Linked DNA regions of Homo sapiens. The protein of the gene in region 4 purifies or fractionates together with the protein of the main gene of each other region. This does not show direct contact. Each region holds a gene or a part of one and is shown on either strand. Other genes may lie near its edges. The genes, in order: EML4, CNOT1, CNOT10, PABPN1L, ASS1, BTG3 and CNOT9.

Region 1 (3,500 bases), on a different chromosome or scaffold from region 4:
TTATTTTTCTATTCTTCTTTCCTTTCTATGGTGTTTTATTTAAAAATAATATGATGCTGGGCATGGTGACTCACACCTCTAATCCCAGCACTTTGGGAGGCTGAGGTGGATGGATCACTTGAGGACAGCAGTTCAAGACCAGCTTGGCCAATATGGCAAAACCTCTTCTCTATTAAAAATACAAAAATTAGCTGGGTGCGGTGGTGCACACCTGTCATCTCAGCTACTCGGGAGGCTGAGGCACAAGAATCGCTTGAATCCAGGAGGCAGAAGTTGCAGTGAGCCAAGACTGTGCCACTGTACTCCAGCCTGGGCGACAGAAACTCTGTCTCAAAAAAACAAAATAAAATAAAATAAAAATAATATAGATACAAACACTCCCAACCATACAAAAAAAGAAAAAACCTGGACTTAACCTTTTAAAAAAATAACACACTCTTGGCCAGGTGCGGTGGCTCACGTCTGTAATGCCAGCACTTTGGAAGGCCGAGGCAGGCGAATAACAAGGTCAGGCGATCACAACCATCCTGGCTAACACAGTGAAACCCCATCTCTACTAAAAATACAAAAAATTAGCCAGGTGTGGTGGTGAGTGCCTGTAGTCCCAGCTACTCGGGAGGCTTGAGGCAGGAGAATAGCTTGAACACGGGAGGCAGAGGCTGCAGTGAGCCAACATGGTGCCACTGCACTCCAGCCTGGGCAATAGAGCAAGACTCCGTCTCAAAAACAAACAAACAAACAAAAACACGGCCAGGCACGGTGGCTCACACCTGTAAGGGAGGCCAAGGTGGGTGGATCACACAAGGTCAGGAGTTCAAGACCAGCCTGGCCAAGATGGTGAAACCCCGTCTCTACTAAAAATACAAAAATTAGCCAGACATGCTGGCGGGCACCTGTAATCCCAGCTACTAGGGAGGCTGAGGCAGATAACTGCCTAAACCCGGGAGGCGGAGGCTGCAGTGAGCCGAGATCGCGCCATTGCACTCCAGCCTGGGCAACAGAGCAAGACTCTGTCTCAAAAAACAAACAAACAAAAAAAAACCACTTTCTAGACCTTTTTCACCTATAAAAGTATAATAATTTATCTCCCAAGGTTAGTATGCAAATTAAATGAGATAAAAGCTCTTTGTAAACTGTAAATAAGGAATGCTTTAAAATAATATTTAAAAATCATATACAGCATGCAAAATTAAGGTATTATAAAAGCCTAAGACAGCTAAAGGACAAGAGATCATATACCGACATACAAATATACTACAGGGTCAGGCACAGTGGCTCACACCTGTAATCCCAGAACTTTGGGAGGCCAAGGTGCGTGGCCATCACCCGAGGTCAGGGGTTTGAGACCAGCCTGGCCAACATAGTGAAAACCTGTCTCTACTAAAAATACAAAAATTAGCCAGGTGTGGTGGTACACAACTGTAATCCCAGCTACTCAGGAGGCTGAGGCAGGAGAATCGCTTGAACCCAGGAGGCAGAGGTTGCAGTGAGCTGAGATCGTGCCATTGTACTCCAGCCTGGGAGACAGAGCAAGACTCCGTCAGACACACACACACAAAGAAATATACTATAGATTTGGGAATCTTCCACACTGAGGTAATACTAGATGAAGTAGATTCTTTCCCTAAACTTTTTACAAGTATTAGAATCTATTTTAAAAATCAAAATATTTTTCTAAAATTTCTTATGAATATTGAAGTTTTACATGTTACAGAAATGGACTCCCACATACAAAATACAGTATTTTGCTACATGTTATTCCAACTTACACATAAGACAGAAAAAGACTCCCTAGAATTTAAACTGCTAAATTATTTCATTGTTTTAAAAAGCCAAGCTCTGCAGAGATAAATCTAGCAATCAACAAATGTTCTCTCAGAAGTTACTTGCTTGAAACATAGCACAGCATTCTAAATGGTGCTTCCTCCCTTCATCCCCATTTCTGGTACTTAGGCTTAATAATAAACATCTCTACATACAGTACATACTTTATTTATTTATTTATTTTTTAGAGGCAGAGGTTTGCTCTGTGGCCCAGTGGAGTGCAGTGGTACAATCATAGCTCACTGCAACCTTCAACTCCTGTGCTCAAGTGATCCTCCTGCCTCAGCCTCCCAAGTAGCTGGGGTTACAGGCACATGCCACTATGCCTATTTTTGTTTTTTTTGCAGAGACAGGGTCTTGCTATGTTGCCCAGGCTGGTCTCAAACTACTGGGCTCAATCGATCCTTCCACCTCAGCCTCCCAAAGTGCTGGGACTACAGGCGTGAGCCACTGCACCTAGTCATGGTACTTATTTAAAAACCAGGCAGTAAGCTCCTAAAGGGCAAAAAGCATGTCTTTTACTTGTCTTTCCCATAAGAACCACCAAGCATAGTGCTAGCCCATGTTCGATGTTAATCCATACATATGTTGAAAAACACTCTAGCTAACTCATGTTGAAGATGCTCTACTAACCATTTAAGAGTTACTACTCATGTCTGGTTACACAACTTGAGTCTATCTTGAACTCTTCAAGAGGCAACCAATAAAAAAAGTTTAAAAAAAAAACCTCTCCAAATATTACATGAAAAACATTTTCATGTAAATAAGGAATGCTTTAGATTAATATGTGAAAATCATATACAGCATTGTTCCTTTAAGAAAGCAAGACTATTATCTGTGATGAGAAATCACAGTTCTAACAATGTGATGTTAAAAAGACTAATTTCTGAATAGTCCATAAGTTGAAGCATACTGCTATACTTGTTCACATTTACAACCTGTACCCAGAATGTTGTTTCTTATAGATCCTAATCCAACAATTTCATTCACTATGATTTTTCTTAGGGGGAAGAAGATTTTAAGTTTTGTTGTTTAACTTTTGAGGCAGAAAAATTTAAAGCTGACTGGTTAGGTATAAGGTTTCTTTCAAGTGAAAACAGACTAATCTCTAGGTTAATTCCAAGATAAAAGTCTTAAAATTAAACCTCTATTATGAAAGAGATTCTAAAAAGATTAAGCATGAAATGCACCCAATCCCTGCCTTATAAAAAATCGGTAAAAGCTGTATGAATAGCTTCCCACTTTTGCACATAGACCTGAGATTTAATATACATACAGTATATACATTTTGCACATGGGTATCTATATGTAGTGATTTAGAGGCAACACATCAAGGTAATTGAGTACTTTTCTCTCCTAAGTTTAAAAAAAAAAAGGTTTCTAAAGTGCTGCCTTAAGTTACCATAATTTGTGGATTAAAAGATATATTAATAATACCTAAGGGAAATTCCAGAGTACAAGCACCTGCCAGCCAAGTTGCCTGAAATTCATCAGCTGCGGAGATTAAAAGAATTCTTCACTTGTTTTTTATGTAAAACAAAGATAACATAATCAGTACCATGTAACTTCAATGTGGCATTTATAAAATGGCCAATCACTTATCATTCCTATGATTTAAAAAACCACTACCTAGTCTTAATTGCCATTAGACATCTTATAAAATGCACATAACACAG
Region 2 (3,500 bases), about 30 Mb from region 4:
AGAAAACTCTATCCAAATAAAAGGTTGGGGGTAAAGAAAGATCTCCCTAATTAATTCAAGAAATTGCCAAGATGTAAATAGTTTAACTCTGTAGATTACTAGAGATAGTCATGATATTCTAAAATCCAATGCACAAATGAAACTAAAATCCTGACCTACATAATGAACCACCACCGATAGATCTTTTCCTCTGAAATGTTACTTGCTCATTCAAGCAGTATGAAAAAAAGAAAAACCAGAGTATCGATTTCCAAGAATGCTATATTCTATCAATTTACCCAACTGTAATAAATGAAGCACTATTCAATTACAGTTCAACTGTATATATGCACTGGGGAAAGAGACTCCTTACTCACTATGGGACAGAAAACTTAAAAGGCATTGTAGGGTGCACTTAAGTGAAACTGGCCAAGGATGGCAAAAAATCAATTTTGCTTAAGGAAATTAGGTATTTATAGACAGTACACCTGAGTTTGGACTAGAATGATAAAGTTTTGGTAGAGATGACATTCCAGATGTAAAAAGACGAAGAGGCTGGGTGCGGTGGCTCAAACCTGTAATCCCAACACTTTGGGAGGCCGAGGTGGGCAGATCACCTGAGGTCAGGGGTTCAGGACCAGCCTGGCCAACATGAGGAAACCCCATCTCTACTAAAAATGCAAAAATTAGCCGGGCGTGGTGTGGCAGGCACCTGTAATCCCAGCTACTCGGCGGGGATAAGGCAGGAGAATCGCTTGAACCCGGAAGGAGGTGGTTGTATTGCAGTGAGCCAAGCTCGCGACACTACATTCCAGCCTGGGTGACACAGCGAAGACTCTGTCTCATTTAAAAAAAAAAAAAAAAAAAAAAAAGAGGACAAAGATATATTTGGGTACCACTGCTTAACAGTCTTTTGACTATAATACAACACAGTAGTACCACAGGGAAGGAGGAATCAACACTTATAATTCCAGATGAAGGTATTAGAATGACTTCTGAACAAAGAAAGGATATTTCCAAAGCAATGATTTAAGTGGCATTTTGGCAGAAATATAAAAAATTAACTGCAGTCCTAGAATCTTTTACAATCACAATATCCACATATTATTTGTGAAATAAACCCAAAAACCAATGATAAAGAAACTATAATGGAGATTAGTTAGAAAGTTATTTCAAAAAAGACAAGAGCCTGAAACTAGACAAAAAGATAACTTTTTTTTTTTCTTTTTTTTGAGACAGAGTCTGTCACCCAGGCTGGAGTGCAATGATCACAGCCCACTGCAGCCTCGACCTCCCCAGGCTCAGGTGATCCTCCCACCTCAAGTTTTGTATTTTTAGCAGAGATGGGGTTTCATCATATTGCCCAGGGTGGTCTGAAACTCCTCGGCTTAAGTGATTTGTACACCTCTGCCTCCCAAAAGTGTTAGGATTGCAGGCGTGAGCCACTGCGCTGGCCCAGCTAACTATTCTTTCTTTTTCTTTTTTGAGACAGAGTTTTGCTCTTGTTGCCTAGGCTGGAGTGCAATGGTGCAATCTCGGCTCACCGCAACCTCCACCTCCCAGGGTCCAGCGATTCTCCTGCCTCAGCCTCCCAAGTAGCTGAGATTACAGGCACGCGCCACCACGCCCAACTAATTTTGTATTTTCAGTGGATACGGGGTTTCTCCATGTTGGTCAAGCTGGTCTCAAACTCCCGACCTCAGGTGATCCGCCCGCCTCGGCCTCCCAAAGTGCTAGGATTACAGGCATGAGCCACCACGCCTGGCAACTATTCTTGTTAGCAAAACCAGGCCTTATAGTTTGTCCAAATCCACAGAATATACACCACCATGGCCGGGCATGGTGGCTCACACCTGTAATCCCAGCACTTTGGGAGGCCGAGGCGGGCAGATCACGAGGTCAGGAGATCGAGACCATCCTGGCTAACACGGTGAAACCCCGTCTCTACCAAAAAATACAAAAAACAAATTAGCCGGGTGCCTGTAGTCCCAGCTATTCAGGAGGCTGAGGCAGGAGAATGGCATGAACCCGGGAGGCGGAGCTTGCAGTGAGCCGACATCGCACCACTGCACTCCAGCCTGGGCGACGGAAAGAGACTCCGTCTCAAAAAAAAAAAAAAAAAAAAAAAAGAAGATACACCACCAAGAGTGAATTCTAATGTAAACCAGAGAATTTGGATGATGATGATCTATCAGCGTAGATTCATCAATTGTAAGAAATGTACAGGCTGGGCTCGGTGGCTCACACCTGTAATCCCAGCACTTTGGGAGGCCGAGGCGGGTGGATCACGAGGTCAGGAGATCGAGACCATCCTGGCTAACACGGTGAAACCCCGTCTCTACTAAAAAACTATAAAAAATTAGCCAGGCGTGGTGGTGGGCGCCTGTAGTCCCAGTTACTAGGGATGCTGAGGCAGGAGAATGGCGTGAACCCGGGTAGCACAGCTTGCAGTGAGCCGAGATGGCGCCACTGCACTCCAGCCTGGGTGACAGAGCGAGACTGTATCTCAAAAAATGTACCACTCTAGTGGGGGGGGGGGGGGGGGCGGGCGTGGACAATGGGCAAGGCAAAGCATGTATTGGGGCAGGAGATAATACAGGAAACCTCTGTACTTTCTCATCAATTTTACTGTGATCCCAAAACTGCTCTAAAAAATAAAATCAATTAAGAAAAAAACGCAAAACCTAGAAGCTATAAATCTAAGGGAACAAACGTTTAATTATCTGACTCGGAAACTGCTGAGTTCTGAATATAAAGCTTAAGAATATTATAGGCTCACGCCTATAATCCCAACACTTTGGGAGGCTGAGGTGGGTGGATCACCTGAGGTCAGGAGTTTGAGACCAGCCTGGCGAACATGGTGAAACCCTGTCTCTACTAAAAATACAAAAATTAGCCAGATGTGGTGGTGGGCACCTATAATCCCACCTACTCGGGAGGCTGAGGCAGGATCGTCTCTTGAAACCTGGAGGCAGAGGTTGCAGTGAGCTGAGATCGCACCACTGCACTCTAACCCAGGCGCCAAGAGTGAAACTCTTGACCCAAAAAAAAAAAAAAGAAAGAAAGAAAAAGAAAAAAGAATGTTAGATAGCGTCTTTGAAAATCCTTTTGGCTGGGTGCAGTGGCTCACGCCTGAAATCCCAGCACTTAGGGAGGCCAAGGCAGGCAGATCACCTGAGGTCAGGAGTTCGAGACCAGCCTGACCAATATGGCAAAACCCCGTCTCTACTAAAAATACAAAAATTAGCCAAGCGTGGTGGCAGGCGCCTGTAATCCCAGCTACTCAGGAGGCTGAGGCAGGAGAATCGCTTGAACCCAGGAAGGAGAGGTTGCAGTGAGCCGATATCGCGCTCCAGCCTGGGGGATACAGCGAGACTCTGCCTCCAAAAAAAAAAAGAAAAGAAAATACTTCCATCCCACTTTTATATTTCAAATAATTACTTCAACATTACTGTAATATTTATTGTGAGATATACATTTGGTCTTCATCCCATTTCCTGGCATACAACTTCTAAGATCCT
Region 3 (3,500 bases), on a different chromosome or scaffold from region 4:
CAGGTTCAAGCAATTCTCGTGCCTCAGCCTCCCAAGTAGCTGGGATTATAGGCATGAGCCATCACGCCCAGCCAACAGTGACTCTTGAGAGAACTATAAAAAGTATTGAAGCATTTGTTAGAGTACTTAACACACTTTTGCTCTGAGTAGTTTAGGTTTGGTTCAGCTGAGATTTTTACCTTTATTTTGGAATTCTATTTTCAAATTAAAACAAAAAGCAAAACATCTAATATTTAAAATAGCAAATTATAGAGGTAGGAGGTAGTTTTCCCAGCTAAACAGATTATTAACCTTTACTGTGAATTTATATGGACACTTAACATATTAAAGAAACTTTTTAAATGTGTTAATATTTTGGATTTCTGAGCCTATGAAAATATTCCTTGCCTGGAAATTAGCTGTAAGCCCTTATCAGTGTAGTTTTCTGATTGTTACTACTTTCCAACTAAATTATAAATCTCTTAAAGCCATCGTAGGTGTGTTTATATCTCCAGCACCTGCCATAGTTGCTTGAATATGTGGGACTGTATATTGCTGGGTGGCAGATCTAATATTTTTTAAAGAGCACAATATTCTCAGCTTGAATGTCCTCATCTACAGGGCTTGTGGTCTTTATTTAAGTGGGCAGGTTTTCATTGTGTTTCAACTTGGCCATAGGAACCTTTTCAAGCTTTCAGAGGAGTAGCTTCTTATTAGCTTATAACATTAATCAGTCATTGTTTTTTGTTGTTTTTTTTTTTTTGAGACGGAGTCCTACTCTGTCGCCCCGGCTGGAGTGCAGTGGCATTATCTTGGCTCACTGCAAGCTCCACCTCCCAGGTTCACGCCATTCTCCCGCCTCAGTCTCCCAAGTAGCTGGGACTACAGGCGCCCGCCACCACGCCAAGCTAATTTTTTTTTTTTTTTTTTTGTATTTTTAGTAGTGACGGGGTTTCACCGTGTTAGCCAGGATGGTCTCGATCTCCTGACCTTGTGATGTGCCCGCCTTGGCCTCCCAAAGTGCTGGGATTACAGGCGTGAGCCACCGTGCCTGGCAACATTAATCAGTTATTGTTGAGAGAGCCCTAACTTTGGCCACTTTATTAGGAAGAACACAAGATGAAAACTAGGGACAAATTCACTATACAGTAGTCCCCCACCTTTTCCTCAGAAGATACATTCAGGGTCCTCCGGTGGATACTTGAAACCACAGATAGTACTGAACCTATGTACTGCTTTTTTTAATACGTACATAACTATGATAAAGTTTATAAATGAGGCACAGTAAGAGATTAACAACAACAGTAATAAAATAACAGTTATCTGAATGTGGTTTCTCTTTCTCAAAATATCTTACTGTACCCTACTCACCTTTCTTCCTGTGACCTATTGATCTGATAACCAAGATGGCTACTGTGTGTCCAAGGGGGAGGTATCTTATACAACATGGAATGCTAGACAAAGGAATGATTGACTTCCTGGATGGGACAGAGCGGGACACTGCAGGATGGCAAGAGATTTCATCATGTTACTCAGAACATTGCTGTTTAAAACTTAAGAACTGCTTATTTCTGGAATTTTCCATCTGATATTTTCATACTTGACCTTGGGTAACTGAAACTGCAGAAAGTGAAACTGGATAAGGAGGGACCACTGTACAACTTTTATTTCTAAAGAACTGTAAAATTTGTGTGTTTGCAGATCAGGGAGCAGAGAAACATGAAGGCACAGGTCAGTCCTCTGGGATCACTGATCAAGAGAAGGAGTTATCCACCAATGCTTTCCAAGCTTTCACAGTAAGAAATGGCTTCTCTTAGTCTGCTCAAGTTGTAGGGTTCTGTCAAGTATGAATCTTTTCATAGTGAATTTTTAAATTTACAATTTTTACTCTGTAATAATTCAAAAGTTAATTTAGAGATAAGTAGGTTTAATTTTTAAAATAAATGTTTTAGAGTTTAAATATGGTGAAAGGAATGGGAATAATTGGAGCCATTCCCAAGTTTTTGTAAACATGTTTTAACTCATATACTGTTGTTTTTAAGTCTTTTAAATTTAGATTTGTAAGTATGTGGGTCAGTCTTTTCATTTCACTAAGCTGTTCAATTCTTTTATTTATTTATTTCTGAAAATATCAGATTCAAAAATTATTTTCTTGAAGGTACTTTAAAATGGAACCCCAAAACTTTATTGGCAGAATTTTAACTTTTTCTGGCATTAAACAATATGAAAGAAAACCTTATTTGGTTATCAGGTTACGTGCATGTAAGCAGAAGAACTTGATGCTTGGGTATTTAAAATATATTTACTAGAAAATAAAATTTGGAGTGATTATATTACCTTTCTTGACTAGCCTCAGCCATTAATACCCTGCTAGCACTATATGTATATGCCAGTATATTTATCATATCAATATATGTGTCTTATATGTGTCAATGTCAGGGTTTTGAGTCTTAGGAAGTAAATATCCACAGTTTAACTGACATGAATGTTGCTTTAGTGACTTTGATTAGTATATGTAGGGAAACTACATCTTTCTTTTTAAGAACTTTTAAGATAAAGATGAATGAAATATATTTGGAATGATATACTGTATTTAAAGCTGGTATGTAATTTTGTGTGTGTGTGTGTGGTTTTTTTTTTTTAGTCTGGAAATTATGATGCCTGTCTACAACACCTTGCCTGTCTACAAGATATAAACAAAGATGATTATAAAATAATTTTGAATACAGCAGTAGCTGAGTTTTTTAAAAGTAACCAAACAACAACAGATAATTTGAGACAAACACTTAACCAGCTGAAGAATCAGGTGATACATAAATGAATTTAACTATAAAAAATATTGTTCTGTTCTTTAATTTATGAAACACAAATAGTTAAGGAAAATAAATGTGATTTGTCTGGTATTTCTTGTCAGAAACATTTGTTAGCATTAATTTTATTTCCGTAAAATTATTATTCCAGGAGATAAAAGGTATGTTGTGGGATCATTTTTTTTAATTGGGGTTTTAATGAACTTGAACAGAATAGACTAATATACCAAATTTGAATGAGCTTTGGAGTTTTGAGAAAGAACTATATGAAGAAGCTTAGCTGTGGAGATATATCTTGTTTATAATGAAAAAAATATGATTAATCCTAATGTCAAGTCGTTTTAGCATTTGGATCAGGAGATGATTGATTAAATAGAAGATATTCTGCTTTGTATCTGGCTTGGGGCTTGAATTGGGGATTGGTCTGGTGATAATGGCAATGTTTCTTGAATCCTGGGGCTAGACTTTTGGTGTTCAAGAGGGCTGATAACAGTGATGGTGCTGATAGGATCAGCTAGCATATGTTAAGTGTTCACTGTGTGACAGGGCTCTGCCAAGCGCTTGTATGCAACTTCTCAGCTTGTTCTTCTCAGTAGCCCTATGAAATAGCTATATAATTTTTCTTATTTTAAAAGTGGAAAAGCCAAGGCACAGATAGCTGTGTAAATTGTCCAAAAACACAAAGTTTTTGAGTAGTAAGAGCTACATGAA
Region 4 (4,190 bases):
CAGCAGTGCAGCTCCAGCCTAGGCCACGCCCTGTCTCTCTCTCCTCCCCCAGTCCCAAATTCCCAGGAATCCCAGCCCCACTGGCTAAACACCGGGGTGCAGTCACAGAGAGGATGGCCTCGGCCTGGGGGTAGGAGCTGTGCAGGGGGCCCCGTCTCCCACCACCAATGGCAGGGGTAAGAGCCATGCATGACCCCCTGGCCCCGAGTCCTTCACAGAGTGGGTGGGAGACGGCAGCACTGGAGATGAAGGCCAGAGCAGACTCCAGCAGCCGCGGTGGCAGGTGCAGAGGGAGGCGCAAGGGCGGACACGGGTCACCTCCTGCTGCAACCCTGCATGGGTGAAGCCAGGTGCAGACACCACCGGATGCCCACTGAATTCCGCCACAGTAACTCACGCCGTCACTCCCCACGGAGACCCCGCCCCACAATAACTCACGCCGTCACTCCCCACGGAGCCCCCGCCCCACAGCAGAATAATTCTGGCCTCATGGAAGTGGCTCCCACCTAAAAGATGACCCAGACCAGGTGCGGTGCTCACGCCTGTAATCCCAGCACTTCGGGAGGCCGAGTCGGGCGGATCACCTGAGGTCAGGAGTTCGAGACCAGCCTGGGCAACATGGTGAAACCCTGTCTCTACTAAAAAGACAAAAAAAATTAGCTGGGCATGGTGGCAGGTGCCTGTAATCCCAGCTACTCAGGAGGCTGAGGCAGGAGAATCACCCGAACCTGGGAGGCAAAGGTTGCCGTGAGCCGAGATCGCGCCACCGCACTCCAGACTTGGCAACAAAGCAAGACTCCTGCCTAAAAAAAAAAGAAAAAAAAAAAAAAGGCCCAGAATAAGGGTTAGGGAGGCAAGGGTCCCTGGGGACTCCATGGGGGTCAGGATGCAGAGACAGCTGTTGCTGCCCCTCCTCTGGGCCCAGGACCCCGCCCCAACCTGCCTCGGCCCTCTCATCCCATGCACCTGCTCTCGGTCTCTGCTCAGGCCCTGCCTCTCCTGGTCGGAAGCCACCTCTCCAGCCTGCTTGGTCCCTGGTACTAGAAGAAACCACTCCCGTGTTCCCACTTAGATCGAGTGTTCATGCAGTGTGGCGTTCGTGCCGTGTGGATGCTGCTGAGGTGTGAACCCTGTCACAGACCAAGGCTCCAGTGAGCCACAGCGTGGCCAGGCGGAAGCAGAAGAGACCGGTGACCCCCACTCAACTCAGCCTCTCCTTCCTCCAGGGAGAGTGTCCTGGAGGTACCTGTCCGAGTGACAGGGAAGGGGCGGGGCCGGGAGCCAAGGCTGGAAGCTCAGCCCCACTCAGCCTTTGCAAATGCTCTAGTGGGAGCAGCTGGCCTCAGGGGAGGGCTTAAAACTCCAGGAGAGCCTGGGCAGGTGCGGACGCGAGGGGAGTGGAGGGGAGGCCTCGCCTGGCCCACCTTCCTCCTGCCCCTCTACCATGTGGCCCTTCCCGAGCCGCTCTCTCTTCCCACCCCCGACTCAGGCCTGGCTCCAGACGGTCTCCTCAGACCCTGAGGCCCAGGGCTGGGGGGCCTGGAACGAGACCAAGGAGATTCTGGGGCCAGAGGGTGGGGAAGGGAAGGAGGAGAAAGAGGAGGAAGAGGATGCAGAGGAAGACCAGGATGGGGATGCAGGCTTTCTGCTGTCTCTGCTGGAGCAAGAGAACCTGGCTGAGTGCCCATTGCCTGACCAGGTAACAGCTGTGTGGAGGCCCTGGGGATCTCAGGGGACCTGGGGCACAGGGGCTGGTGGAGACACGGGGTCTGGGTGACGGATGGCTGCAGCTGACTTAGGAGGGGAGAGGGCCATTGCCCACCTGCCTGGACGAAGGTGGCAAGGAGACCCCCCGCCCCCAGCCACACAGACTGCAGGGTCAAGGTGGCCTCTCTCGCCTGGGGAAGGGCCCTTGAGGTGCGGTTTCGGGGGCTTCTCTGCAGGGGCGAGTTCATCCCCAGCCAGCTGCCCCAGGAAGGAGTGTCCCTGTCCAGAGAAGGGCTGCCCCTTGGGGCTGTGACCCTCTGCTGGAGCTGGCAGGCCACACACCCACCTTCCTTGAGCAGAGCCTGCAGGCTGCCTGCCCGGCTCAGGGCCGTGTGTCGGCAGGAGCTGGAGGCCATCAAGATGAAGGTGTGTGCCATGGAGCAGGCCGAGGGGACGCCACGGCCTCCAGGAGTGCAGCAACAGGCCGAGGAAGAGGAGGGCACCGCGGCCGGGCAGCTGCTGAGCCCTGAGACCGTGGGTAGGAACCAAGGGCACAGGCCGCCCCCCACTGAGCAAGGGTCCCACAGTTTCCATTAAGGTTGGGCCTGGCAGGCTCCAAGGTGTCACCTCCCCTATAAGCCTGGGCGACCTTCCCCGTGAGAGGAGTGAGGAAGGAACCAAGGGCCTGCGGGCCTGAGCTGTGTTCTCCGCAGGCTGCCCCCTCTCTGGGACCCCCGAGGAGAAGGTGGAGGCTGACCACAGATCCGTCTACGTGGGCAACGTGAGTGGTGGGCGGGGTGAAGGGGCAGGCAGCGAATGGGGCCCCATCTCTACCAGAGGGTCTGGCGCCCGGCCATGGGCCAGGCAGCCTTGCTGGGAAGGGGGTCTGACCCTGGGGGCAGCCCCGTCACCTTGAGGAAACACTGGCCTGGGCACATATTCCAGTTTTTCAACATGAGCTGGAATTCGGGGTTGCACATGAAATCTCCACTTTTGAGAAGCTTTTTAAAAGGCTCCAGCTCTCCAGAAGGAAGCGCTCCATACGAGATATCCTTTCCTCTCTTCCCTCCAACCCCAGCGGGGGTGTGGGGTGGAGGCCTGGGGCCATCCCCGCCACGGGGCCCAGCCTTGGGGTTTCTTTCCTCACCTCTAACAAGAAGGCCCCGAGTCAGGGCCAGGCGTCTCCCTCACATGCTGGTCTGGGCCTGGGTGCAGGTGGACTACGGGGGCTCCGCCGAGGAGCTGGAGGCCCACTTCAGCCGCTGTGGGGAGGTCCACCGAGTCACGATCCTGTGTGACAAGTTCTCTGGACACCCCAAGGGGTCAGTGTGGGGCCTGGTGGGGGCACTGGCCATGCGGACAGGGCCCAGCCTCACCCCTCCCCTCCCTGCCCCTCCCCTCAGTTATGCCTACATAGAGTTTGCCACCAAGGGCTCCGTGCAGGCCGCCGTGGAGCTGGACCAGAGCCTCTTCCGGGGCCGGGTCATCAAGGTGCGCCGGTGCTCCCCAGGTCCAGGAACATGAGCGCAGAGGGGCTGGCCCACTGGCCCTGGGACACACAGCAGCCCCAGCTGGCTCCTCTCTGCACAGCGTGTCTCAGGCACGGTGCTTGGCTGGGCCTGGACAGGATGTGGCGGGACCCTCGGACCTGAAGCTGGGTTTGGTCTGCCAGTGGCATGGTGGGGAAGTGTCCCCTCTCGGGCGGGAGCCCCCTCTGCAGGGGTGCTGGCCGTGACCCCCCCCTCTGCAGGGGTGCTGGCCGTGACCCCCCCCTCTGCAGGGGTGCTGGCCGTGACGGGGTGTCATATGACAGCTATGGTAGGCAAAGGCAGGGAACCCTGTAGGCCCGAATGGTATCCTGAGCCGGGCAGGACCCCATGCTCCGGGGTGGTGGGGGCTGCGGGGGCTGTGAGCTGGGTCTCGGCTGCTCCTTGAGGAGGACTCAAAACAGGCCTTTGCTCCAGGTGCTGCCGAAAAGAACCAACTTCCCTGGGATCAGCTCCACAGACCGCGGGGGCCTTCGAGGACACCCAGGCTCCAGGGGGGCACCCTTCCCCCACAGCGGCCTCCAGGGCAGGCCCCGGCTCAGACCACAAGGGCAGAACCGGTGAGTGGGTGCCTGTGGGGGCAGCCTGGGGGCGAGGGCCATGGTGGAGGGCATCAGGGGCAGGAGGGGGTCCCTGAGCTCGTTCCTCATGGGGCTGCAGGAATGTACCTGGCGGGGCCTGGGTGAGGGCTGTGGCTGCTGCATCAGCTGGTGGGGGGGGCGCTTTTTGTAGCCTCTCTGCTGGGAGAGGTGACCCCTTCTTGTTCCCACAAAGGCCCCAGGGTGGGCTACAGCTGCCCCAAGGGGCTCTCCTGGCACTGCCTTTCCTTTTCGTGGGACCCTCCCAAGAGAGCAGCTGGGAGTCACCAGAAAGGCCCCTGGGGCATTGCCTGAGCAGCCAGGTGACCTCCCTGCATCCTTATCCTGTTGTCCCCCG
Region 5 (3,500 bases), on a different chromosome or scaffold from region 4:
TTGCATTTAGGGGCTGTGAAATTGGAACCAGGCCCTGAACTAATTGAATTTCACGCTCCACCATTGTCTTACGCCGGGAGCACCTTCTGTCCCACCAGTCACCCGGGGGCCGCCTGGCCGAGGTGTGGCTGGGCTCAAGCACACACATACTCGCTCACACACACACACACACACACACAGCCCCCTGCCACGTCTGTCAGGCGGACCCCGCGCCCCGACCCTGTACCCCAGACCCACACGCAGCCATCTGATTGATGGGGGTGACACGGTGCCCGCTCCAGCAGGCGAGGTGTCGGCAGCGTCCCTGAATCCGAGGAGCTGGGTCCGGGGTGGCAGGAGGGAAGGGGTTGGGTGGGGGCAGTGGGTGGGTTCGGGGTTGACTTTGAATAGCAAGGGGCACTTTCTCGAGCGGTGTGAAATGAGCAATAAATGTATTGGGGCTAACAAGAGAGCTGAAACAGTGACAAAGAAAAGCTGTTCAAAGTTGGCGGCTAATCCCCCACCCATCTGCCCGGCTCATTACCATGGAGCGAGCCATCGGGTGCCAATCAGGCCTCAATAGCGGCTTTCGAGGCTTTATTAGCCAGGCGCCGCTTGGAGGGGCTTCACTCAAGGCGCTGTCAGCCTCGCCATTCTTAACCCCCATTTCCAGGGGTTTTATAACTTGGTTGTAAATTGCTATTAAATGTAAGTCTGCCCAATAATGAACCTTAAGCCCCTCTCACCACCCCCCGCCTCTCCTCTCTCCCTTTCTCTCCCTCCCCGGTCCTATTATCGGCCTTCGCTGGGGCCTTAGATGGGGCCTGCCCGGGAGAAGAGGTGACATTGTTGGTGCTGCTGCTGGAGAAAGCCTCTTAGCCTTTAAAATAGTTAATAATTAGATTAAAACTTCAAATAAATTAACTAGAGAGTGAATGGGCACTAGCCAGGGGAGGGTTCCTCCGGTCTTTTTTTCTTCTTCCAGACAGTCCCCAAATCATGACAATAGGTCACGTTTCTTCTCCAGCTCAGCCTGCGGAGCTGCCCTGGTCCTCGGGCAGGGCTGCCAGAGCCTGGTGCCCAGGACCCTCCGCAGCCTGCCACCCGCCTCCCACCCTCACGGCTCTCCAGGCTCCTGGGAGCCCTGTGCAGGGAGCCAGGAGGTGCTGCTGGGGCCACTCCCACCATCTTCTCAGAGATGATCCTAAAGGGAGGCTCTGTGCCTGCAAACAGGCCTGGGGGCCCGGCTGCCTTTGGGGTCCTCTTTGGCCCCCCAGTAGGTTGGGACAGATGAAGGGGAGCAAGGAAGACAGTCGCTGGCTTGGCCAAGCTCTTGGGAAAGGCCCAGAAGAGGCAGATTATTAAAGCACTTAGCCTCCGACACCCCATTCCACATACCATGCCGGGCACCTGTGAGCATCATGCCTGTGGTCCGTTTTTTGATGAGTGCACCCAAGGCCCAGCATGGTGAAGCTGGCTGTCAAGGTCACACCAGCAAGGGGGAGAGGGGGATCTGCAGCTCTGCCTCCCCACCGGCCTGAGGCTTCCCCACCCTATCCTCCTTTCTGTGGTAGCCGGGGTAAGAGCCGAGCGCCAGAGCCGGGCCAGGCCTCTCCACGAGCCTCTCTCCCTCTCATCCCAGCTCCAGTGTGGGCAGCCACTTTGTGGACGAATGGGCCAGCCCCCCGCCTGGTCCTTGGGTGCCCCTGTGCCCAGCACCACCTCCTCCAGGAAGCCTCCCTGATCACTCCAGCCTCCTGAAAAGGTACCCCTTCAGGCCCTCTGAGCCCGCCCTCTGAGCCCTCCCTCTGAGCCCAGGCGGGCATGCCTCGCTTCTCCATCCTTCCTCCAGGCCAAGAGATGCCCTCTCCCAAGCTCAGGCACCCAGGCACTCAGGCCAGGTCAGCAAACGCTTCTTGTTGACAGCAGTGAGAAGGAGGGAGCGATCAGGACAGCCTCCACTGCCGAGGGGAGCAAGAGTGGCCGCAGCTTTGAACGTGGGGTCAGCAGGGTGAGGCCCAGAGCGGCTCAATGAAGACTGGCGAAGGCTTTCCATGTGGGGTCCCAGGGGTCCATGAGGCCAGCTCGCCAACACTCACCGTTTACTGAGCACCTTCCGGGGTCAGGGCCCAGGGCTGGACGCTCCCTTGCAGGCCTCATTCTACCCCAGGAAAACAGCAGGCACTCTTTCATCCTCAGATACAGCTGAGGAAACTGAGGCCCAGGAAAGTTGAGTGGCTGTTCAGGGACTAGAGCGCTCTCATTCCAGACCTGGTGCCCATGAACCCGAGTGATGGGTAGCCGAGGGCATGTTCCTCCCAAGCCTAGAGGCATCCATGGTCCATGGGTTGTACTGTCCAGGGAGGTGGGCTGTGCGTTACCTTGAAGCCCCTGCCTGAACTCTAGCTTCCAGGAATGCAGGGCGGGGGTAAAGAGGGCCTAGGTTCCCAGGCAGGGAGGGGAAAGGAGCCAGGGCCCCAAAAGTCAACCCCCTTCGAGTCCCAACAGGTGGGCACATACCTTTTTTGAACTCGATCTCGAGAATGTCAGGGGTGTTGGGGGCTTTGGCTGGGTCCTGGGTCTTCGTGTAGAGACCTGGAGGCGCTTGGTTCTGAAAAAAGACAGAAAGTGGTGGGCAGATGACATACCAGTCCCTGGACACCCTACAGCCCACCTCCCGCGGGGATCTGCACCCCTCTCCTCTGTCCATTTCCCCACCAGCTGGTGGGGTCCGGCAGATCCCCCGGTCCCCAGCCCTCAGCCTAGCACCAGCCTCGCTTGCCAGAGGCCTGGGAAACAAAGGGCTGGAGAAATCAGACAATTTTTCCCCTCAACTTGATCTCATCTTTTTCTTCGACGCCCCCACAGCTGGAGGTAGAATAGCTGGAGAGGAACAAGTCAGGCAGGAAAAAGTGTGACTTTGGAGGAGCAAGGCGGCGTTCCGAGGGCTTCCCAGGAGCGGCACGCACGCTCTCGCCGGCTCGGGATTGGGGTTTATTCTGCACTGACCGCAAAGCTAATGACTGCCTGTGACCCCAGCAGGTGCTCTGGCAAGCCGAGCCGTCCCCAGGGTCCCCAAGGTTAATACTCACAGGGAGAAAAGAGAAGAGCAAAGCAAAAACCCATTTGAAAACACATCAACCTTTATGTATATTTTTTCTTGGGCGTGTTGGAAAATGGGCCTCTCGTCTGATGCAGTGGTGGAGGGGCTGCGTGTTGCCTGAAACTCTCGAAATTCCCTCCCACCTTCGGAGGCCCCAGCTCCCCCAGGCCGTGGCTTGGACATTTGCCACTGTGGGGACTGGGGCCTCTTGGGCCTGACTGCTCAGGTCCCTCCTGTGGGCATCCTGTGCCTGGGGTCCTTGTTCACCTGCTGACATCCAGGAACTGCTGTCTCATCTTTGCTTTAAAAACCTTGCAGACGGCTGGGCACAGTGGCTCACACCTGTAATCCTAGCACTTTGGGAGGCTGAGGTGGGTGGACTGCCTGAGCTCAGGAGTTCGACACCAGCCTGGGCAAC
Region 6 (2,749 bases), on a different chromosome or scaffold from region 4:
CTTGCTAGTCATGTAAAATAGTACCACTACTTTGGAAAACTGGAACTTTTTAACGTTAAATGTGTAACTCTTCTATTACTCAGCAGTTCCACTCCTAAGTATTAAATATTTACCAAAAGAAACGAAAATATGCCTATAAAGCCTTCTATTAGAATTAACTGTGCTGTTATTCATTGCAGCATTGTTTTGTTCGTTGTGTATCATTGTTTTTTTAATAGTAAGAGACTGAAAACAGCCTCAATGTCCCATTACTAGGAGACCATTTAATTTATAGTCATTGCTATACTATCTAGCTGTAGAAAAATGAGAAGGATCTTTATGTATTGATATGTTTCTGAAATGTATTATTATGAAATGTAAAAAGCAGGATACAATCCAGTATACATATATATTTTTAAAGTGTGTATAGATGTGGATAGAATATCTCTAAAGGTATATTTAAAAAAATGTTTGGTGTCAGTTGCCCTTGAGAAGGGTTAAGATAAAGAAGATAAAGGGTGAGATAAAAAAAGAGGGACTTTCCACAGTTTACCCTTTTGTACTTTTTGAATTTTCTATCATGAATGCAATGCTATACACAATATAATTTTTTTAAAAAAATCCTATACTTAGAAATGCAGATTTGAGATCAGCAAAATCAGAAATTTAAGAAGATGTGGCATTCTAAGCAGAGAGGTCTAAAACTGCTGATAAGAACACTTTGAATAATGTGAACCTGACGTGCCCACCTGATTTATGGGATAATCTAAAACTATTATTCCCAAATACTAAACTGGCTACATCAGAATCACCTGGGGAGCTTTGTCAAAATACCTGGCCTCTAGTTCTGAGATTTTATTATTGTTCATTAGACCAGTGCTAGGGCATGAATGTTTTGTGTTTATCTTTTTTTTTTTTTAACTTTTATTTTAGGTTTAGGGATACACATGAAGGTTTGTTCCATAGGTAAACATGTGTCACAGGGATTTGTTGTACATATTATTTCATCACCCAGGTGTGAAGCCCAGTACTCAATAGTTATCTTTTCTGCTCCTTTTCCTTCTCCCACCCTCCCCTCTCAAATAGACTCCAATGTCTATTGTTTCCTTCTTTGTGTTCATAAGTTCTTATCATTACCTCCCACTTATAAGTGAGAACATGCGGTAGTTGATTTTCTGTTTCTGCATTAGTTTGCTAAGGATAATGGCCTCCAGCTCCAATGTTTTGTATTTAAAAGCCTCCAAGTGACTCCTGGCTTAGCCAGCTGTGGAAACCACTGGACTAAAACAAGCATGTCCTTACAAGCTTCCATTCGTTCCATGTTTTGGTCTTTTTTGGTTGAAGTTGTTTAGGAAGTACTGTGTTTGAGTTTATTCATTTCTTTATGCATTCAGAAAACATTGGTCACCTGTTATACATTATACGCCTATTACACATGAGGTTTTTAATGTATTTAGACCTGACAATAGGAGTGTCACTTAGATGTGATCTCAGTGTTGTGGGTAACTTTGTTTGTCTTTAATGAGAAATCTGGAACATAGATGATGATTTTTTCCTTTGAATTAACTTAATGTGTTCTCTTCCCTACAGATTTCAGAACTTATATTTCCACCTCTTCCAATGTGGCACCCTTTGCCCAGAAAAAAGCCAGGAATGTATCGAGGGAATGGCCATCAGAATCACTATCCTCCTCCTGTTCCATTTGGTTATCCAAATCAGGGAAGAAAAAATAAACCATATCGCCCAATTCCAGTGACATGGGTACCTCCTCCTGGAATGCATTGTGACCGGAATCACTGGATTAATCCTCACATGTTAGCACCTCACTAACTTCGTTTTTGATTGTGTTGGTGTCATGTTGAGAAAAAGGTAGAATAAACCTTACTACACATTAAAAGTTAAAAGTTCTTACTAATAGTAGTGAAGTTAGATGGGCCAAACCATCAAACTTATTTTTATAGAAGTTATTGAGAATAATCTTTCTTAAAAAATATATGCACTTTAGATATTGATATAGTTTGAGAAATTTTATTAAAGTTAGTCAAGTGCCTAAGTTTTTAATATTGGACTTGAGTATTTATATATTGTGCATCAACTCTGTTGGATACGAGAACACTGTAGAAGTGGACGATTTGTTCTAGCACCTTTGAGAATTTACTTTATGGAGCGTATGTAAGTTATTTATATACAAGGAAATCTATTTTATGTCGTTGTTTAAGAGAATTGTGTGAAATCATGTAGTTGCAAATAAAAAATAGTTTGAGGCATGACAACGCGTGTTTCTGTTGTGTGCATAAAAGGGGAAAAGAACGGGTATTTCCCTTCAATGTATTTAACTAAATAGCAAAAACATTAAACAGAACGTAAGAATTTTAAAATTTCCTTTGAAAAATCAACTATTAACCATACTTTTCCTAAAAGACCACATATCAGAATATGCATATGAAAAGTTAAAAATTTGTTAGTGGTAGTTATTGAAAATATAATAAAACATCTTTTAACTATCAGTGTCACTATACATAGGGTTTTTTAACAAAGAATTTGGCTCGTACTAATTTTGACATGACATCTGACTTACATGTCTAATGCCATTGCATAAAGTAGATGTGTTCTTACAGCTGCTCTAATCTCTGTGCCTTGTGCTTTTTTTAAAAAACATTTAAGTCTTTACTAGAGGCCTAAAATAAAGTCAAATAATACAATACTTCAGATTCTTCAGTAGTCCATATTTATACAACTGTAATTCCATCAGTCTTGTAAGGGTACTTGA
Region 7 (3,500 bases), on a different chromosome or scaffold from region 4:
TTAAATTATTTATTTATTTAGAGACAGGATCTCTGTCTGTCACCCAGGCTGGAGTAGAGAGGCATGGCTCACTGCCGCCTCGACCTCCTAGGTTCAGTTGATCCTCCCACCTCAGCTTCACAAGTAGCTGGGACCACATGCCTGCTCCACCACACTCAGCTAATTATTTTTATTTTTTGTAAAGACAAGGTCTCCCTATGTTGCCTGGGCTACTCTTGAACTCCTGGGCTCAAAGGATCTTCCTGCCTTCTGCCGTAGTACTAGGAGTACAAGCATGAGCCACTGTGCCTGACCAATTTATTGTTTTTAAAGAGACAAGGTTTCACTATGTTGCCCAGGCTGGAATGCAGTGGCTATTCACAGCCATGATAATGGCACACTATAGCCTTGAACTCCGGGGCTCAAGCAGTCTTCCCACTTCCCTCTCTGGAGTAGGTAGCTTTGATACTGGCACACATCCCTATACCTGGCTATTTTTAAGCTTTTTATTTTAAATATTCAATATATGGATGACTGTCAAAGGCATTGTTGAGCAAAAGAAGCCAGACACATGGGAATTCATACTGTATGTTGATTATGTGAAGTTTAAGAACAAGCAAAGCCAATTACTGGCAATAAGTTGGATTCGTGGTTAGCTCTGAGGAAAGAACATTGACTGGGGAAAGGTACAAGGGAATGCTGGAATCCTGAGTTGGTAGAAATATTGCTTTTTTCTGTTTTTTTTTTTGTTGTTGTTGTTTTTTGTTTTTGAGACAGTCTCACTCTGTCACCCAGGCTGGAGTGAAGTGGAGTGATCTCGGCTCATTGCAACCTCTGCCTCCTGGGTTCAAGCAATTCTCATGCCTCAGCCTCCTGAGTAGTTGGAACTACAGGCACACACCATCATACCCAGCTAATTTTTTGTATTTTTAGTAGAGATGGAGTTTCGCCATGTAGCCCATGCTAGTCTTGAACTCCTAAGCTCAGGCAATCTGCCTGCCTCCACCTCCCAAATATTCTGTATTTTATACAATATTTTGTATTTTAATCTGGTTATAGTACATAATGTGTACATAGGTAAAAATTCAAGGTACACTTAAGATTAGTGCACTTAACACACTTCACTGTGTGTAAGTTTATATTAGGTTCCTATATAACCTGCTGCTATAACAAATTACCACAAGCTAGAAGGGTAGTGGCTTAAAACAATGGAAGTTTACTGTTTTATAGTTTTGGAAGTCACAAGTTCTAAATGAGTTTCACCAATCTAAAGTCAATGTATCAGGAGGGTCATGCTTTCTCTGGAGGATATAGAGGAGAGTCTTTTTGTTGCCTTTTCTAGCTTCTAGAACTGCATTTCTTGCATTCCCTGGATTATGGCCCCCTCCCTCTTCAGATCCAGCGATGTGGCATGTTCAAATCTCTTTCTGCTTGTCACATTGCTTTCTCCTTTGTGGTAAAATCTCTCCCTACATCTCTCTTGTTGTTGTTGTTGTTGTTGTTGTTTTGTTTGTTTGTTTGTTTTAAGAGATGGGGTTTTCTCTGTCGCCCAGGCTGGAGTGCAGTGGCATGATCATAACTCACTGCATCCTTGAACTCCTGGCCTCAAGCAGTCCTCCCACCTTGGCCTCCCAGAGTGCTGAGATTACCAGCATGGGTCACTTTGCCTGGCCTTCTCTACATCGCTTTTAAGGACACTTCGTTATTACATTTAAGGCCTACTTGGATAAACAGGGATAATCCCCCATCTCAAGATCCTTAACTTAATCACGTCTGCAAAGTCCCATTTTTCATTTAAGGTAACATTTGCAGAGTTTGGTGATTAGGGCCTGGATATCTTTGAGAGCCATTATTCAGCCTACTACAGTGTTATAACCCCAATAAAATAGTAAAATAATTCCACAGTTCATTTTGATGAGCAGCCAAGAAAGAGTATCATTATCGTGATTGTCTAATTTAAATTAAACTAATATTTTAATATCTCTTTTATGTAAGAGCTAATGAGCTCAAGTTGAGGGAAAAATTGAGGCCACATATAAGCTTCACAGCCAGGATATGTTTTATTACTGTTAGATAATCTTCAAAGAGAAGCGTGAAAATCTTATTTCTTCAAGATCTTTTAAGAACAAAAAAGGCCTTATCTCAGCCGAGTGCAGTGGCTCACGCTTGTAATCCCAGCACTTTGGTAGGCCAAGGCAGGTGGATCACGAGGTCAGGGAATTCAAGCCCAGCCTAGCCAAGACGGTGAAACCCCGTCTCTACTAAAAATACCAAAATTAGCCAGGCATGGTGGCAGGAGCCTGTAATCCTAGCTACTCGGGAGGCTGAGGCAGGAGAATCAGTTGAACCAGGGTGGCAGAGGTTGCAGTGAGCTGAAATGGAGCCACTGCACTCCAGTCTGGGCGACAGAGTGAGACTCCATCTAAAAAAAAAAAAAGAAAAGAAAAAAGAAAGAAAGGCCTTACTTCATCTGGAAGAGAGGAGGCATAGCTGAATAAATCATCTTGGCCTATGGAAAAGAGAAGAGCCTTAGATATTCAAATGAGGCTTGGATCTCAGCTGTGCCATAGTAACTTTGTCACTTGGGACCTTAACCTGGTGCATTATTGATTAACAGTTATACCGGGCACATAGTAGGTACTCTGTAAATGAGAAGGTCTCTGAGTTTTTAAGAATTTGATAATTACACGGAACCTACCCTTGTATGTAAAGTGAGAATAATAATGGTACCTACCTCATTGATTTATTATAAAAATAAGATAAGCATGTAAAGCCTCTAGAAAAAAAAACTGGTACAAAGTAATGTTCAACATGGTAATATTTATTATTCTTTGTACTATACATATATGATAAAGTTGTACATAATATACAAGGATCCCTGCTTGCTCAATTTTCTGACTGATAGTCATGCCTGGGAAAATGAGTAGAAAATGAGAAGATTAAATCTGAGCAACTTTATAAACTCTTCGATTTTGTTTTGCTTCAGGTTGCCACATTCATCCTCCAGAAGATCTTGTTAGATGACACTGGTTTGGCTTATATATGTCAGACGTATGAGCGTTTCTCCCATGTTGCCATGATCTTGGTGAGTTCTTTCATCTATCCCCTTTACAACTACTTCTCATCACAAAGCTTAATCTCTTTATAACTGGCATTGAACAACTTCAGTCCTCTGACTAGAACTAACAATTTTGGAACCTTTTATGATTCTTGGACTATCTGATCTCTGATGTCAATTAGAATTTGTTTGTGTTTTGTGTGTTTTTTCCAACCCCTCCCCTTATTTTGGGGGAAACAGGGTAAGATGGTCCTGCAGCTATCCAAAGAGCCTTCTGCCCGTCTGCTGAAGCATGTAGTGAGATGTTACCTTCGACTTTCAGATAACCCCAGGTAAACATTTATAGGATGTATAGGACTTTAGGGAAATACTCTGCTGAACAGTTTCCTAATCTCATGGCATAGCTCCTGTGTCTTTAGGACAGGGAAGTGGGGATATAACTGCATTTAGTTTGTCTGAGACA

Evidence for each region.
Region 1: the proteins of PABPN1L (region 4) and EML4 purify together in Homo sapiens (affinity purification with mass spectrometry; one large-scale study listed by BioGRID and IntAct). This does not show direct contact.
Region 2: the proteins of PABPN1L (region 4) and CNOT1 purify together in Homo sapiens (affinity purification with mass spectrometry; one large-scale study listed by BioGRID and IntAct). This does not show direct contact.
Region 3: the proteins of PABPN1L (region 4) and CNOT10 purify together in Homo sapiens (affinity purification with mass spectrometry; one large-scale study listed by BioGRID and IntAct). This does not show direct contact.
Region 5: the proteins of PABPN1L (region 4) and ASS1 purify together in Homo sapiens (affinity purification with mass spectrometry; one large-scale study listed by BioGRID and IntAct). This does not show direct contact.
Region 6: the proteins of PABPN1L (region 4) and BTG3 purify together in Homo sapiens (affinity purification with mass spectrometry; one large-scale study listed by BioGRID and IntAct). This does not show direct contact.
Region 7: the proteins of PABPN1L (region 4) and CNOT9 purify together in Homo sapiens (affinity purification with mass spectrometry; one large-scale study listed by BioGRID and IntAct). This does not show direct contact.

The regions. Positions count from the first base shown.
Region 1 is NC_000002.12:42,172,353-42,175,852, reverse strand, and holds part of EML4 (echinoderm microtubule-associated protein-like 4), read right to left. Parts: intron 1-3,500. UniProt on the Homo sapiens protein: Essential for the formation and stability of microtubules (MTs). Required for the organization of the mitotic spindle and for the proper attachment of kinetochores to MTs. Promotes the recruitment of NUDC to the mitotic spindle for mitotic progression.
Region 2 is NC_000016.10:58,619,827-58,623,326, forward strand, and holds part of CNOT1 (CCR4-NOT transcription complex subunit 1), read right to left. Parts: intron 1-3,500.
Region 3 is NC_000003.12:32,702,188-32,705,687, forward strand, and holds part of CNOT10 (CCR4-NOT transcription complex subunit 10), read left to right. Parts: intron 1-1,680; coding exon 1,681-1,775; intron 1,776-2,623; coding exon 2,624-2,785; intron 2,786-3,500. UniProt on the Homo sapiens protein: Component of the CCR4-NOT complex which is one of the major cellular mRNA deadenylases and is linked to various cellular processes including bulk mRNA degradation, miRNA-mediated repression, translational repression during translational initiation and general transcription regulation.
Region 4 is NC_000016.10:88,863,861-88,868,050, reverse strand, and holds the start of PABPN1L (embryonic polyadenylate-binding protein 2), read left to right. Parts: upstream 1-1,390; 5' UTR 1,391-1,444; coding exon 1,445-1,699; intron 1,700-2,109; coding exon 2,110-2,245; intron 2,246-2,420; coding exon 2,421-2,488; intron 2,489-2,922; coding exon 2,923-3,029; intron 3,030-3,110; coding exon 3,111-3,198; intron 3,199-3,671; coding exon 3,672-3,814; intron 3,815-4,190. UniProt on the Homo sapiens protein: Binds the poly(A) tail of mRNA.
Region 5 is NC_000009.12:130,475,961-130,479,460, reverse strand, and holds part of ASS1 (argininosuccinate synthase), read right to left. Parts: intron 2,591-3,500; coding exon 2,500-2,590; intron 1-2,499. UniProt on the Homo sapiens protein: One of the enzymes of the urea cycle, the metabolic pathway transforming neurotoxic amonia produced by protein catabolism into inocuous urea in the liver of ureotelic animals.
Region 6 is NC_000021.9:17,593,153-17,595,901, reverse strand, and holds the end of BTG3 (protein BTG3), read left to right. Parts: intron 1-1,569; coding exon 1,570-1,809; 3' UTR 1,810-2,249; downstream 2,250-2,749. UniProt on the Homo sapiens protein: Overexpression impairs serum-induced cell cycle progression from the G0/G1 to S phase.
Region 7 is NC_000002.12:218,589,339-218,592,838, forward strand, and holds part of CNOT9 (CCR4-NOT transcription complex subunit 9), read left to right. Parts: intron 1-2,965; coding exon 2,966-3,064; intron 3,065-3,277; coding exon 3,278-3,369; intron 3,370-3,500. UniProt on the Homo sapiens protein: Component of the CCR4-NOT complex which is one of the major cellular mRNA deadenylases and is linked to various cellular processes including bulk mRNA degradation, miRNA-mediated repression, translational repression during translational initiation and general transcription regulation.